Homo sapiens: one gene and its partner. The protein of the gene in region 1 binds, or shares a complex with, the protein of each later gene. Each region holds a gene or a part of one and is shown on either strand. Other genes may lie near its edges.

The links. Proteins that work in one complex are often made in the same cells at the same time.
Region 2: the proteins of MYBL2 (region 1) and LIN9 are in contact, whole or in part, in a crystal structure (PDB 6C48), measured with the Homo sapiens proteins. Residues at the interface, in NP_002457.1 of Homo sapiens: Trp663, Ala667, Cys668, Gly669, Gln674, Met677, Gln678, Ala681, Arg682, Leu684, Leu685, Arg687; in NP_001353174.1 of Homo sapiens: Lys356, Gln385, Arg386, Tyr388, Ala389, Thr390, Val392, Leu393, Leu395, Glu396, Asn399, Leu402, Asn403, Leu406.

The regions. Positions count from the first base shown.
Region 1 is NC_000020.11:43,705,109-43,712,129, forward strand, and holds part of MYBL2 (myb-related protein B), read left to right. Parts: intron 1-110; coding exon 111-250; intron 251-4,854; coding exon 4,855-4,954; intron 4,955-6,379; coding exon 6,380-6,493; intron 6,494-7,021. UniProt on the Homo sapiens protein: Transcription factor involved in the regulation of cell survival, proliferation, and differentiation. Transactivates the expression of the CLU gene.
Region 2 is NC_000001.11:226,306,165-226,313,483, reverse strand, and holds the start of LIN9 (protein lin-9 homolog), read left to right. Parts: upstream 1-4,344; coding exon 4,345-4,375; exon of another isoform or gene 4,376-5,033; intron 5,034-7,319. UniProt on the Homo sapiens protein: Acts as a tumor suppressor. Inhibits DNA synthesis. Its ability to inhibit oncogenic transformation is mediated through its association with RB1. Plays a role in the expression of genes required for the G1/S transition.

The sequences.
Region 1 (7,021 bases):
CAGACGTTTTGGGGGAGAGGCTCAAGGATCTCTCCCCATGATCCCCTGAGGTCTCAGGGATACTCATGCAGGTCATCATTTTGTCTTGTTCCCTCTCTCTTCTTTGGCAGTTTCTGAACTTCTGGAACAAACAGGACACATTGGAGCTGGAGAGCCCCTCGCTGACATCCACCCCAGTGTGCAGCCAGAAGGTGGTGGTCACCACACCACTGCACCGGGACAAGACACCCCTGCACCAGAAACATGCTGCGTGAGTGCTGCAGTGCCCCCAACCTTCGCCGTCCTCTCCCTCAGCAACACCAGACCATGGGCCTTGGGACCACTGGTGGAACAGTGGGGAGGGGGCACCCTTGGAATAACACTGAAGACTGTTTTAAGAAAGCCCTCTCCTTTCTGGCCACCACGATTTATCATTTTTATCGATATAGTTTTGGGCTCCACCTTTGCTTTTCCTCATTTGTATTTTTTAATTTGATAGTTTCCTTTTTTGTGATCCTCCTGCCTCAGCCTCCTGAGTAGCTGGGACTCCAGGTGCATGCCACCATGCTCAGCTAATTAAAAAAATATTTATTTATTTATTTATTTATTTATTTATTTATTTATTTATTTTGAGATGGAGTCTTGCTCTGTTGCCCAGGCTGGAGTGCAATGGCGCGATCTTGGCTCACTGCAAGCTCCGCCTCCCAGGTTCATGCCATTCTCCTGCCTCAGCCTCCCGAGTAGCTAGGACTACAGGCATCCGCCACCGCGCTCAGCTAATTTTTTGTATTTTTAGTAGAGACAGGATTTCACCGTATTAGCCAGGATGGTGTCGATCTCCTGACCTCGTGATCCTCCTGCCTCAGCCTCCCAAAATGCTGGGATTACAGGCGTGAGCCACCACACCCGGCTAAAATTTTTTTAAGAGGTGAGGTCTTGCTACTTTATCTGGGCTGGTCTTGAACTGGCCTTAAAGTGATCTTCCTGCCACAGCCTCCCAAAACGCTGGGATTACAGGCGTGAGCTACTGCACCTGGCCCTCATTTGATAATTTTCTGTCTCAGGAATGGAGAGTCCAAATTAGCCTGAAAAACATAATCTCTTCCGCTTCCTAAGGTTTCAGGTGCAAATTCGTTGTGTTTGAGCAGCCTTATGTGCAGGGCGAAAGTGCCCATCCCTCTATCAAGAGTGGAGACTGCATTCCTGTCCTCTGAGCTTACGGAGCATGACATTTTCTGTCTGGAAGCCTGTACAGGTTGCTCGCCAGCCTGCTTTTACAATGGAAGTGCTTTTACAATAAGTTTACTTCCTTGGGTCATCATGATTCTAAATTCCAGGTAGAGAGAGTTGCTTAACTATTCCTCTGCTTGATACATTTGCTGGAGGAGGAAATCGCTATTTTGTGATTCAGAAATCAGCTCAGGAATTTTAGCCCTGATAGTGATACATAATTTCGGGAAAAGATTTGTGAATCCCTTAGTCAGAAATCAGTCTCCAAAGTCCGGCTCAGTGGCTCACACTTGTAATCCCAGCGCTTGGGAGGCCAAGGTGGGAGGATCACTTGAGACTAGGGGTTTAAGACCAGTCTGGGCAATATAGGGAGACCCTGTCTGTACACAAAAAAAAAAAAAGTTTTTTTTTTTTTTGAGATGGAGTCTTGCTTTATCACCCAGGCTGGAGTGCAGTGGTGCAATCTCGGCTCACTGCAACCTCCGCCTCCCGGGTTCAAGCAGTTCTCCTGCCTCAGCCTCCTGAGTAGCTGGGATTACAGGCACGCGCCACCACACCCAGCTAATTTTTGTATTTTTAGTAGAAACGAGGTTTCACCGTGTTGGTCAGGCTGGTCTCAAACTCCTGACCTTGTGATCCACTCGCCTCGGCTTCCCAAAGTGCTGGGATTATATGTGTGAGCCACTGCTCCCAGCCAAAAAAAATTTTTTTAATTAGCTGGGCGTGGCCGTGTGTGCCTGTAGTCCCAGCTACTCGGGAGGCTGAAGTGGGAGGATTGCTTGAGCCCAGGAGTTTGAAGCTGCAGTGAGCTATGATTGGCTACTGCACTCCAGCCTAGGTGACAAAGCGTGACTCTCTTTCTAGTTTTTTTTTTTTTTAAAAAAAAAAGAGAAAAAAGAAATCAGTCTCTAAAGAGTTGATCTAAAGCATAACTTAGATAGGTTTCGTGAGAAATGATTGTCCGTTCAAACCAGAATCTTGGACTTCGCATCTAAGCCCTTAAACAGAGATGCTGTCACTACAAAAGGCATTGATACTTCTCTCTCTCCCTTTCTTTCTTATCCATGTGGCCTCATTTGCTGCCTCCTTCCAATTCCTTTTTTCCATAGGAAGAAGCATCTCCAGTGCTCTTCATTCCTCTTTAGATCCATATTTCCATCTGGTTCCTTCTGAAGGCCATCCTTTAACCATGTAGTGTGGGCTTGCTGGTGATGAGTTCTAATTTTTATATTTTTTTGCTAATTTTTCTATTTTTTTGTAGAGATGGGGTTTCGCCATATTGGCCAGGCTGGTCTCGAACTCCTGACTCAAATGGCCTGCCTCGGCCTCCCAAAGTGCTGGGATTACAGGCGTGAGCTGTAATCCAGCTGTTATTCCTTTGTAGAGAGTCTCTTTAGTTATCCCTCAAATTTGACAGGCTGTATGGTGGTGTGGTATTTCTCTATTTTTTTCCCCCCCGGCTTTCATATCAGACTAAAGATTCAAACCTTGAGCTGAGGAAGTGTTTATTTCTTTAGTTTTTCTTTCCCTGTCTGCCCCTTCTCCTACCTTAGGAATTCCTTCATATATAGGCTGGATTGGTCTCTGTGTCTTTTTCGTCTTCATACGCCTCTTCACCATCTTAAGCCATTTCCTTAATCTTCGGAGAACATGATGGGATTGTTTTCTGATTCACCAGTTTGGTTGTCTGTGGTTTCCAACTTGCTGAATTCTCTGATTTACAGAGCTGCATTTTTTATCTCCAAGCAATCTTTTGAATTCCCTTTTCAAGTCAGCCTCCCTGCCTCCCTGAGTTTTCTTTTTGAGACAGTCTTGCTCTGTCCCCAAGGTTGAATACAGTGGTGTGATCATGGCCCACTGCAACTTCTACCTCCCAGGATCAAGTGATCCTCCCACCTCAGCCTTCTAACTAGCTGAGAACACAGGTGTGCACCACCATGCTTGGCTAATTTTTTTGTTTTTTTGAGAGACAGGGTCTCACTGTGTTGCCCAGGCTAGTCTTGAACTCTGGGACTCAAGCAATCCTTCCGCCTCAGCCTCCTAAAGTGCTGGCATTACAGGGGTGAGCCACAAGGCCCGGCCTCTCCCTGAGTTTTCTAATGTGTGTATATACACTCTTTTTTTTCTTTTTTCCGAGACAAGGTCTCTCTTAGTCACCCGGGTTGGAGTGCAGTGGTGCAATCATGGCTCACTGCAGCCTTGAATTCTGGGCTCAAGTGGTCCTCCTACCATAGCCTCTGGAGTAGTTGGGACTACAAGCACCACCATGGCTGGCTGATTTTTTTATTTTTAGTAGTGATGGAGTCTGTGTTACCCAGACTGTTCTTTAACTCCTGGCCTCAAGTGATCCTCTCCTGTCAGCCTAACACTAATCCCAGAGTGTTAGGATTACAGGCGTGAACCACTGCCTTTGGCCATGTGTGTGCTCTTAGTCCTTGTTGATGCCACGAATTAGAGAGGTTCTGGAATTTTCTCATGTTCCTCAGAAACTCCATGTCCCATGGAGATGCTTGAGTGGCTCAGATTCACCTCTGTGAATTGTGGTTTGAACTGTAAGATGTGTACATTTGACTTGTGCTTATCTGTCTTCACTCTTCCTTACAGAGGGGGATCTCTGTGTGTCCCAGATGGGGGATAACAAGGGTTTGGGAAGAGACTGTGGATCCCTGCCTAATCTCTAGGTCCTGAGGAAGGAAGAAAAGAATGGTCTGCATTTGTTCTAGTTTTTTATCTCCCCATGGAGTGGCTGGCCAGCTGCGGGAAGTGGAGGCGGCGAGGCCCCAGGCTGCTGTTTCTAGGAGTTGGCCTCATCACCCAGGTCCCTGGCTACCTGGGGTGTTTCTCTCATCCTCTGAGTGCCCTGGTTATGCCATGAGAGTCAGCCATGGTGGTATCTCCAGGTGACTAAGGTCACATACCAGCACACAAGGGTTCGTGTTTGTGGAACCTGGTAGCTTCCTTCAGAGCTGACATTTGCCCACAGCCAGCCTGGCCCAGCCCCATACCACCAGCCCTGGCGCTCTGGGGCGTGAGGTGCCTTTTCTGCCCCCCTGCTCTAGGGCAGGTGGAAATCACCCATGGTGGGTCTACATCTGATAGAAGCATCTTATAGTTCTGCTTCTGGACCAGACCATCCTGGGTTTTTCTCTGTTCTGCTGAAGGGTTCCCTCCACGTGTCCATCACCTCGGTGAACTCTTGGGAGACCTGGGAAGATGCTGGCCTCACCTCTCGCCCCTCCTTTCCCTCATTGTGCTGCCACCATCCTTCTCACACAGGCTCTCCAGGGAGAGCTGGGCAGGATGGGATCTTCCTGGGTTCCCACCTTGCTCCGTGCCCCCTCTCACTGTTCCTGAAGTGTGGCCACGGACTGCCTTGTTTTCTGGAAAGTCCCAAGTCTGGACCATGACTGAGCAGCATTCTCGGCTATCTGCCACCTGTCTGGGGCTCCTGGCCCCTCTTAGACTCCCCTCTCCCTTCTGTTTCCCCCGAGCCCCTGACTTGGACCTGCAGGGTGGGGAGAGGGATGGGACGAGAACCTGTGCTGGGGCCAAAGGTCGCACTGGGGGAAGGTGGAGCCAGGGCAGCAGAGTGCCTGGCGTCGGCCCCTATCCTGTCACTAGTTCCCCCGTTCTGGCCCCTGGCAGGTTTGTAACCCCAGATCAGAAGTACTCCATGGACAACACTCCCCACACGCCAACCCCGTTCAAGAACGCCCTGGAGAAGTACGGACCCCTGAAGCCCCTGGTACGTGGTGTGGTCGCTGCCGTGGATCTCTGCACAGTGGGATCCCTTCGGTTCATCCAACCATGTTCAGTCCACAGGACCCTTCCCTCTGAGGTCTCATTTGATTCTTTCTCCTGAGAAGATGCAGAGATCCTGATAATATAAATGGGGAAGCTGAGGCTGCTCTTTGTCACTTCCTCCGACTGCTCCTGAGCACCTGAGTTTGCAAGCACGCGCCGGCTGGTGCTAGAGACATGGTGGTATCCCGTGACACTCAGCCTCAGGATGGGGGAGACTGATGTGAAATACAAATAACTTAAACACTTTCAGGCAAAGATAAGCACTGGGCCTAGTTCAGAGAAGTGGCAAATTGCTACTCTGGCCTGTCTCTGACCAACTCCCAGTTCTCTACAGAGCACGGGAAAGCCCCTCGGGGACGTCTTTCCTGCAGTGTGCAGGCTGCCCTTCTCCCCTGCTCTTCCCAGTTGATGGGATGGTTGTGTTTTCTCTATGAAAAAAGGAGTTGGCACCTTGGGCTTTCTGAAACACACAGGTGTTTTAGAAATCAGTGGAGGGTGAGAGAAAGGCATGGTTGTGGAGGCACTGGACTGTGAACAAGGTCTGCAGCGGGTCCCCCTGCTGTCTCTCTCCACTGCATGGAGCCTCCTATGAAGCCCAAGGTGGCTGGGGGCTGAGGCTCCCTTGGGCCTGCCATGGAACTGATTCTGAGTCAAGCAGACTTTCCACGGACCATGCTACATGAGCCGAGGTGAGGCACTAGTTAGTGCTCCTTTCCTGTTGCAGTGGAGATTTGGCTCCTCTGTACTAAAATATCTGCATGCTCTCCAAACAGGTGTGAGGGCAAATCACATGACCTTGGCAGCTGTAATTAAAGTTTGTGGGGGCTTTTCGGATGACTTATGAGGAGTGGCTGTGATTCGCACCTTTCACTCTTAGTAGCACTCGCCCTCCCCTGTTCTCTGTTGCCTGAAGCTGGAGAGGTCCTTGGAACCCCGAGGCCTGAGAAAGGGAAATGGGTTTGAGAGCCCCCATTAGTGTGGAACAAAGGGTTGAGTGAGCCTGGGCTTTGAGCTGTCGGGGTCCTAATTCAGCAGCTGTGTGACTGTGTGCCAGGCTGTTGATCTCTGAGCTTCTGTTTCTACCTGCTTAAAATGACGGTTACTGCACAGGGCTGTGTGAGGGTTACAGTGCGTCTCTGGGCTGCTCCCAGCCATGGCAGGCCCCTGGGAATCAAGGTCATCAGCTGCTTGTCCAAGGCAGCAGTTAGTGGTTGTGAATGGTGCGTGTGAGATCTGCATCCTGGCGTCAGGCCTCCTTCCTGCCTTACCCAGGACAGCCCAGTTGCAGCTGGGTTGGTCCCACAGTCCCACACACACACAGCCCGAGTGTGGTGCCTCACGTGGGCTGCCCCGTGCCTACCCACAGCCACAGACCCCGCACCTGGAGGAGGACTTGAAGGAGGTGCTGCGTTCTGAGGCTGGCATCGAACTCATCATCGAGGACGACATCAGGCCCGAGAAGCAGAAGAGGAAGCCTGGGGTGAGTAGGGTAGGGGTGGGAGAGCCTGGGCAGGGGGAATTGGAGCCGTGGCATGGGGGAGGCGTCTGGGGACAGGTTGTAGAAAGTGAGGCGCTGGGGAGAATGGGGGCGTAGCATATCCCCTTTGCCCCCTTTCGCACGGTGGTTGTTGAGGAAACTGACAAGATAAGGACAGTGTCTCTGGGACCCTCCTCTGCTCTGCTTTGAAGGATTCACTTACTTATCCAGCATTGTGTTCGGACCCTGCTCAAGTTGGGCTGGGCTGGATGTGGTGGATGGAGCAGCAATTACGACCCAGACTGGATCTCCCCTTAGTGTTCAGGGGGCAGAGACAGATGCTAGACAGACACACCATGACTGAATTCACAGGGTACCAAGGGCCGCAGAAAGGGAGGTTCCAAAGGAATCTTTTGGGTGGAGGCGAGGCGGTCGGGATGAGCCAGCCAGGCCAGGCAGTGCCTGGCTGAGTGTCAAGCTGCATGAGCTGGGGGTGGGGGAGTGGGTTCAGGTGAGGTGGAGTCTGCAGGG
Region 2 (7,319 bases), on another chromosome or scaffold:
AGGGAGATGATTCTGAAGGGAATTACCAGGATGGCCACTGGGCACATTTTTGAGAATATTTATGTTGTAAAAGAGGGATTCTCATCAAGGAAGGATACCAACAGTCACTGGAGATCTTGGTAGGCACTTAATTTACAATATGTAATTTAATCTTCATGATAACCCTTCAAGAAAGGGAGAAGAAAACTAAAAACTACTACTGAGAGTAATTTGTTCAAGAATACACACAAGGGAAGTAGGTGAACTGCAATTTGAACCTAGATCCTGGGGCCATCAGTACTCCTGGTGTACTTGGATGCTGGAAGAGGAAATGCTGAGTGTGGAGTCCTACCAGCAACATAACTTAAAAATATATATATTTATAGGCTGGAGAGCCTTTTTACCTCATTATGGCTGAGATACTCAAGCAAGGCAAACTGAATTGTCTTTGTTTTTTCATTACTAACTCAAATTCCCAACTTTATCAAAAGTATTTATAAAAACATTCACACACATACTATACACACACACGCTTTTTTTTTTTTTTTTTTTTTTTTTGAGACGGAGTCTCACCCTGTCACCCAGGCTGGAGTGCAGTGGTGTGATCTCAGCTCACTGCAGTCTTCACCTCCTAGGTTCAAGCAATTCTCCTGCCTCAGCCTTCCAAGTAGCTTGAATTACAGGCACAAGCCACCACGCCTGGCTAGTTTTGTATTTTTAGTAGAGACTGGGTTTCACCATGTTGGTCAGGCTGGTCTCAAACCCCTGATCTCAGGTGCTCAGGCGATCCACCTGCCTCAGCCTCCCAAAGTGCTGGGATTACAGGTGTGAGCCACTGCACCAGGCCCCCAACACACACATTTTATCTTTAGTCATTGCAACTGTTTTCACAAAAATAATCCAACCCAATAATTGATAAATAGGCCACAGGACTAGAAATGGTCAAACCTGGTATTTCTAAAACGTGGCCATGTTTATTTTTCTTATGGTATTTTTAAAATTTTTTAGAATTTTTGTGGGTACATAGTAGGTGGATATATTTATGATGGTACATGAGATGTTTCTTATGGTGTATTTTTATTTAGGTTTTTCATGACTTAATGACCTTATCCACACCGTGGTTTGTTTTTTTTAAAAAGCAAACACCACACACAGTCATGTCATTTTAAATTGGAATAAGTGATTGCAGGAAACTTAATACCCCTGTGTTGCATGTTGCTATGGTTTGAATGATGGTATTCCCTCCAAAATTCAGTTGTAACATAATCCCCAATGCAACAGTATTAAGTGGTGTGGCCTCTGGGAGGTGATTAAGTCATGAGGGTTCTGCTCTCGTGAATGGGGTTAGCACCCTTATGAAAGGGCTCAAGACTGAAGGAGGTGTTCTCTTGCCTTTCTGTCCCTTCTACCATGTGAGGACACAGCATGCATCCCCTCCAGAGGATGGAGCAACGAGCCACCATCTTGGAAACAGAGAGCTGCCCTCACCAGACACCAACATTGGCACCTTGATCTTGGACTTCCCAGCGTTTGAAACTGTGAGAAATAAATTCTTGTTGTCGGCTGGGCACGGTGGCTCATGCCTGTAATCCCAGCACTTTGGGAGGCTGAGGCAGGTAGATCACTTGAGATCAGGAGTTCAAGACCAGCCTGGCCAAACTGGTGAAACCCTGTCTCTACTAAGAACACAAAAATTAGCCAGGAGTGGTGGCAGGCACCTGTAATCCCAGCTACTCTGGAGGCAGAGGCAGGAGAATCGCTTGAACCCAGGAGGCAGAGGTTGCAGTGAGCCGAGATCACACCATTGTACTCCAGCGTGGGTGACAAGAGCAAAACTCCATCTCAAAAAAAAAAAAAAAAATTCTTGTTGTCTATAAATTACCCAGTCTCAGATGTTTTGTTATAGCAGCACAAATGGACAAAGACATACGTGTAATCCTCCCATCACAGAGGGAGTCACTGAGGCACCGAAAAGTGGGCTAGATTCCTGATTCTAGCACTTGCTTGCCATTGTCTTTGGACAAATTACCAGGTTGTTGGGAGAATCAAGTAAGCCAATCATTGTAAAACCTGTCATAAATATTCAATAACGAAACTTATTGAAGAGTTAGGTGTGCCTTGGCTTCGATCACACAGCTAAGCGCTAGATCTGGGGCTAGGATACAGCTTCAGGCTTTGGATTTATGAGAAGAGTCAAAGTTTTTGTTTAAAATGCAGATTATCAGGCAAGGGCCTAAAAACATTGATTTAAACAGTAGTTGTGTTGTTGCGTGTACATGAAAACTGCCTCAGAATAAAACCAGGTTTGCCTTGGTCTAATGACACCTTGACTATCATGACATTCACAAAGCTTTTGCTTCTCCCACTCTGGTAACCTCTCATGTTTTTTTAATTTCTATTCTTCCATTCTTAAAGGGCTGACCTTTTCTTGATCTCATCTCCAAATTGATACTGAAGTGCAAGCTGCTGAAGCACCCCCTAGGTGCTGACAACAAGGACCAGTGTTTTAATCTTCTTAGGGAGCAGATCAGAGTGTGTTTAGAAGGCAAAGGAGAGGTTAAGCTAGCTCTGAAGGAAGGATTACTTTGTAAAATTGAACTTTCACCCTCCCTGCTCACTCCCTGCTCTCCCTCCTACCTTAGCATGGCAGCACCCAGTTACCCAAGGCACAGAGCTGGCATCAGCAATGAGACTTCCTTCTCCTCACACCCAGTGACTCACCCAATCCTTTATTTTCCACGTCTTGAAAGGTGGAGTGCATGCTGCCACCTCTCTCTAATACTGCCTATGCTGTGGTAATGGTGGTAATAGTGGCTAGCTGATGGGTGCTAGCAGCTAGTATAAGGTCCTTACATCTATCAAATCGTTTAGCCCTCAAAATAACCCTGTTATTTGCATTTTACAGATAAGAAACTGAGGCACAGAGAATTCGGTTAAGAAACCAACGTGCCTGAGATTATACAACTAGCAGCCCATCTGGATTCTTCCCATCGAGGCCCTGGGGCTCCAGAGCCCACCCGCTGCACCTCTCTAGCTACCAGTGCAGGCATCTCTCTTCTGTCCTTTGCATGCCCCAAATAAGCTTCTTCCTGACTGGTTTCTAGGCTCTCATCTTGTCCCCCACCAATCCATTTCCCATATTTTTGTTCTAAAACACAAATAGAAACGTGCCCCTCTTACACCCGACTTTTCCACTGCTCCAGTGGACTAAGCAAGTTCAACTCCTTAGCCTGGGCGGGCCTCTGTGTACCACTCTGTCACCTTAGTCTACCGCCTTTTAACTTTGTAGTTCCTGGAATTCACCCACGTTGTCTTTTGACTGCTTAACGGTCTCATTCCTCCAACCCCCATAAATTCCTGGAGAAAAGGATTGGAGCTCAATGACATTCGTTAAATGAATTTTTGAAAAGCAACAGTGTTTTATTACTGGAAAGTGTTACAGACAGATATTGTGAAATTTTTCCTTGGGCTTCTTTCAATTTCGTTCAATTCTCGTCCAGTATTCTCATAACATTTGGATCAGGTACTTTATCACCTTGTAGTGTCACTGTTCCTTTCTGTATCCTCTCGAAGCCTCCTGTTACTCGTTTTCTAATTCTCTTCCAGCCCACTGCACGATCTAGTGTCGAATGGATGAAACAGCTGAGCAGAACAGTTCTTTAGCTGTCGGCCTAAATGACCAACTTCATGACCTCTCAAGGTCTCGCTCCCCGGCTGCACGCAGCTCAGCTTCCAACATTCGGGAAAGGCGTGCCCGGATCGCGAGGGGCCGCTGGGACCGAGTCCCGGACGTCGCGACGCGCAGGGGGCTGCTGCGGCCGGCGGTCTCGGGAAAAGTGAGGGGACGGAGGCGCCCAAGCAACGTGGGTTTCGGGAACTGTGAGTATTTCACTTTGCGTAGAGCCCCCTCGGGCAATGCGACCCAGAACCGAGGGCTTCTTTCCCCCCGCCGGGGCCTCCCTCCCGTTCTCCACTCGGAACAAACAGCCTGCAGTTCCCGCAGCTGCAGCGCGGGCCGCGGAACATGCGCCGGGAGCGGGGCCCGGGCGGGACTCCGGAGCTGGTACTGCTCCCCCCGCGCTCCGGCGCCGGGCCTCGCCGTGCGGCCTCCTTCCTCCCTTCCTCCCGCCCGGCTCGGCCGGAGGCGGCGGCGGAGGGGCGAGGCGCGGCCCCCCTTCGGCGGCACCTCCTCCCCGGGCAGGCGCGGGCGGAGCCGGGCCCGCCTCAGCCAGCCGCGGCGGGAGCAGCGCAGCGCGGCGCCGCGGGCAGCGAGCTCCGCATTCGAACCTCCCTCGCAAAGACAGTCTCCGCCCCACAATGCACCGCGGCGGGCAGCCTTTGAAAAAGCGGCGCGGCTCGTTCAAGATGGCGGAGCTCGACCAGTTGCCTGACGAGAGTGAGTAGCACCTCAAAGCACCCCCCCCTTTTCCCGCCTGCTGCTTGCCCAGCGGTTGCACCGGCCGGGACGGACGGCCGTGCCCTCCGCTGGGCAGGTGGGCTGACTGCCAGCCCCACTGTGGTCCCCTAGTCCTCCCACTCCGGTGTTGCCGCCGCGTCGCCGCCTTTGTTATGGTGTCTGTGTGTTGGTTTCTGGGGTTGTGTGAGCGCCAGGGCCGGAAACCGAGAGCCCGGGAGTCCAGCCTGTGCCAGGCGGAGGCGGTGGCTGCTCCCCTGGCGCCACTCCGGCCCCCAGCCGAGGTGGAGGGAAGAGCGGCCCCTGGGCGCGGGGGCTGTCCTCGCCGCCTGCACCACTCGCCCGGCGCCGAGAGACGCCCGCCGGGGTTATGTAACTCGCCTGTCCCGGGGCCGGGGGAGGGCTCGGGCTGGGCACGGGGTGGTCCACGGCCCCTTCTTCTTGCCCCAGCCTCTGATCTTGTCCTGTCACAGCTCCTGCCTCTACGGGCACTTGTGATCTTCACTGTCCTCCCCACCCCCCCACCGGTGTGTCCACCCCTGGAAGTGTTTCCGTGTCAGAGGGTTGGCCCCTTCCCCTGGGACCACAGGTGGCTGTGGACCTTTCCTGAGATCATCCAGCCCGGATACTCAGTGTTCAGGTAGACCCCGTCCCGCAGACTTTATTCTATATGTGTCTTAAGAGCCATAAAGGTACCTTTATGCATGGATGTGACCAACACAGCGTACGTGTACCCTGCCTGACACCCACCCTAGGGCATTGCCTCCCCTAACCATGTTTACTCACCCTGACATCTAAGACATGTATGCTCACTTGTGTTGAGTAAGTAAAAGCACCAATTCCATAGTTTAAGGGCAATGGAACTTAATTTTGTAATTTACAATATTGCATAAATTATATGAAAAGACAAATATGTTATTTAATTACAAAAAAAAGTCCTGAATCCACTTTCACTATTCAGTTTATACATATTTGTGAAAGGCTCAATTACTATTGAATCTTATCTATGCACAAGGCAAATGGACTTAAAAATGAGGACTCAACATACTACCGATTCCATTTTCTTTGTGAGGTCATGTGTTCTTAGTAAGTTATAAAGTTAAAAATTCAAGTTGCCAAGCTGGTGAAAAGTCGTATTAAAAGTGTTTGTGTTTTAAATTTGATAGAGAGCAGCACTAAGTCCCCAAGGAACTTTGTCCATGATAGAACTGTTCTCTTTTGTGATGTCCAGTAGGGCAGCCAAGCTACTAGCCATATGTAGCCATGGAACATTTCAAATGTGGCTAGAGTGATGGAGGAACTGAATTTTGAATTTTATTTAATTTTAACTTGCATAGTCACATGTAGCTAGTAGTCACTGTATTGGGTAGGGCACAGCTATTGACCAGTCATGAGCTGTACTGTTTATTTGTAGAATACAATTGATTGTGATTTATTTTATTTATTTATTTATTTTGAGATGGAGTTTCACTCATTGCCCAGGCTGGGGTGCAATGGTACTATCTCGGCTCATTGCAACCTCTGCCTCCCAGGTTCAAGCGATTCTCCTACCTCAGCCTCCCGAATAGCTGGGGTTACAGGCATGTGCCACCACGCCTGCCTAATTTTTTTGTATTTTTAGTAGAGATGGGGGTTTCTCCATGTTGGTCAGGCTGGTCTCGAACTCCCGACCTCAGGTGATCCACCCGCCTCGGCCTCCCAAAGTGCTGGGATTACAGGCGTGAGCCACCGCAGCTGGTCTTGATTGTGACTTAGAATGCTCCCAAATGAGTGTGGACCTACTAAGCACAGTGTACTTGTCATCCGAAAATGTTTTTCATCATCCTTGGTATCTTTATCATAAACATGTCTTATCACCTCTTGGATGTCACAATCACTAGAGCTACTGTTTTGGTTACTGTAGTCATTCTGTTGTAATGAGAGGCATTTTAAGTGGCTTTCTTACAACTGCCATTAGGAATATTTGCTTCATATCATCCAGCATTTATTGAGAATTTACTGTGGTTCTTTGTAGGGACTTGGGATTTATATTAGGGTTCAAATTCCAGCTCCACTTTCAAATTATATAACCTAATCATTTATATTACTTTGTGACATCTCTGGTGCATTGGTGTGTATTTGTGAAGCGTATGTCTTGTTTAGGTAGACTTCAGCTTTGTTGAAACCAGGGATTTTCTTTCTTTCTTTGTCATACAGTGCCACAAATCAAGTATACATAAATAATTTTTATGGAATTAGTGCAAAGTAACAGGTATTATTACTGAAACTAGAGCAGGGTCTTGAAAAGGAAAAGCGATTTCAATTTGATACTGGAAATAGCAGTATGTTTTTTGGCCACATTTAGTCAAGGAGGCTAGCTAATATATTGTTCAGGAGTCGATATAACATTATCAATAATGAAAGCTACCATTTATTGAGTATTTACTATGAACCAGATGCCATGCAAAGGATATTACATGTATTTGCTCATTTAATCTTCATTTCAGTTGATGTAAGTGCTCACATTTTATATAAGGAAATTAAGGCTATCTTCAGCCCAGATCTTTCCTGAGCTCCCTTTCTTGATATCTCTTGCCTGTTTCACATTTCTTCTTAGATGCTTCAAAGGCCCCTCAAACTGCACAGGTTTAAAATCCACCTCAGTCCTACCCCAGGACAGATACTTCTAGTGATTCGAATGGTTCCACTGTGCATTCAGCTGGCAGGGCAGAAACCTAGAGATTTTCTTTGGCACTTCCCTCTCTTTCTTTTCTTTTGTTTTTTTTTTGAGACAGAGTCTTGCTGTGTCACCTAGGCTGGAGTGCAGTGTGCGATCTCAGCTCACTGCAGCCTCCGCCTCCCGGGTTCAAGCCATTCTCCTGCCTCGGCCTCCTGAGTAGCTGGGTTTACAGGCGCCCGCCACCACACCTGGCTAATTCTTGTATTT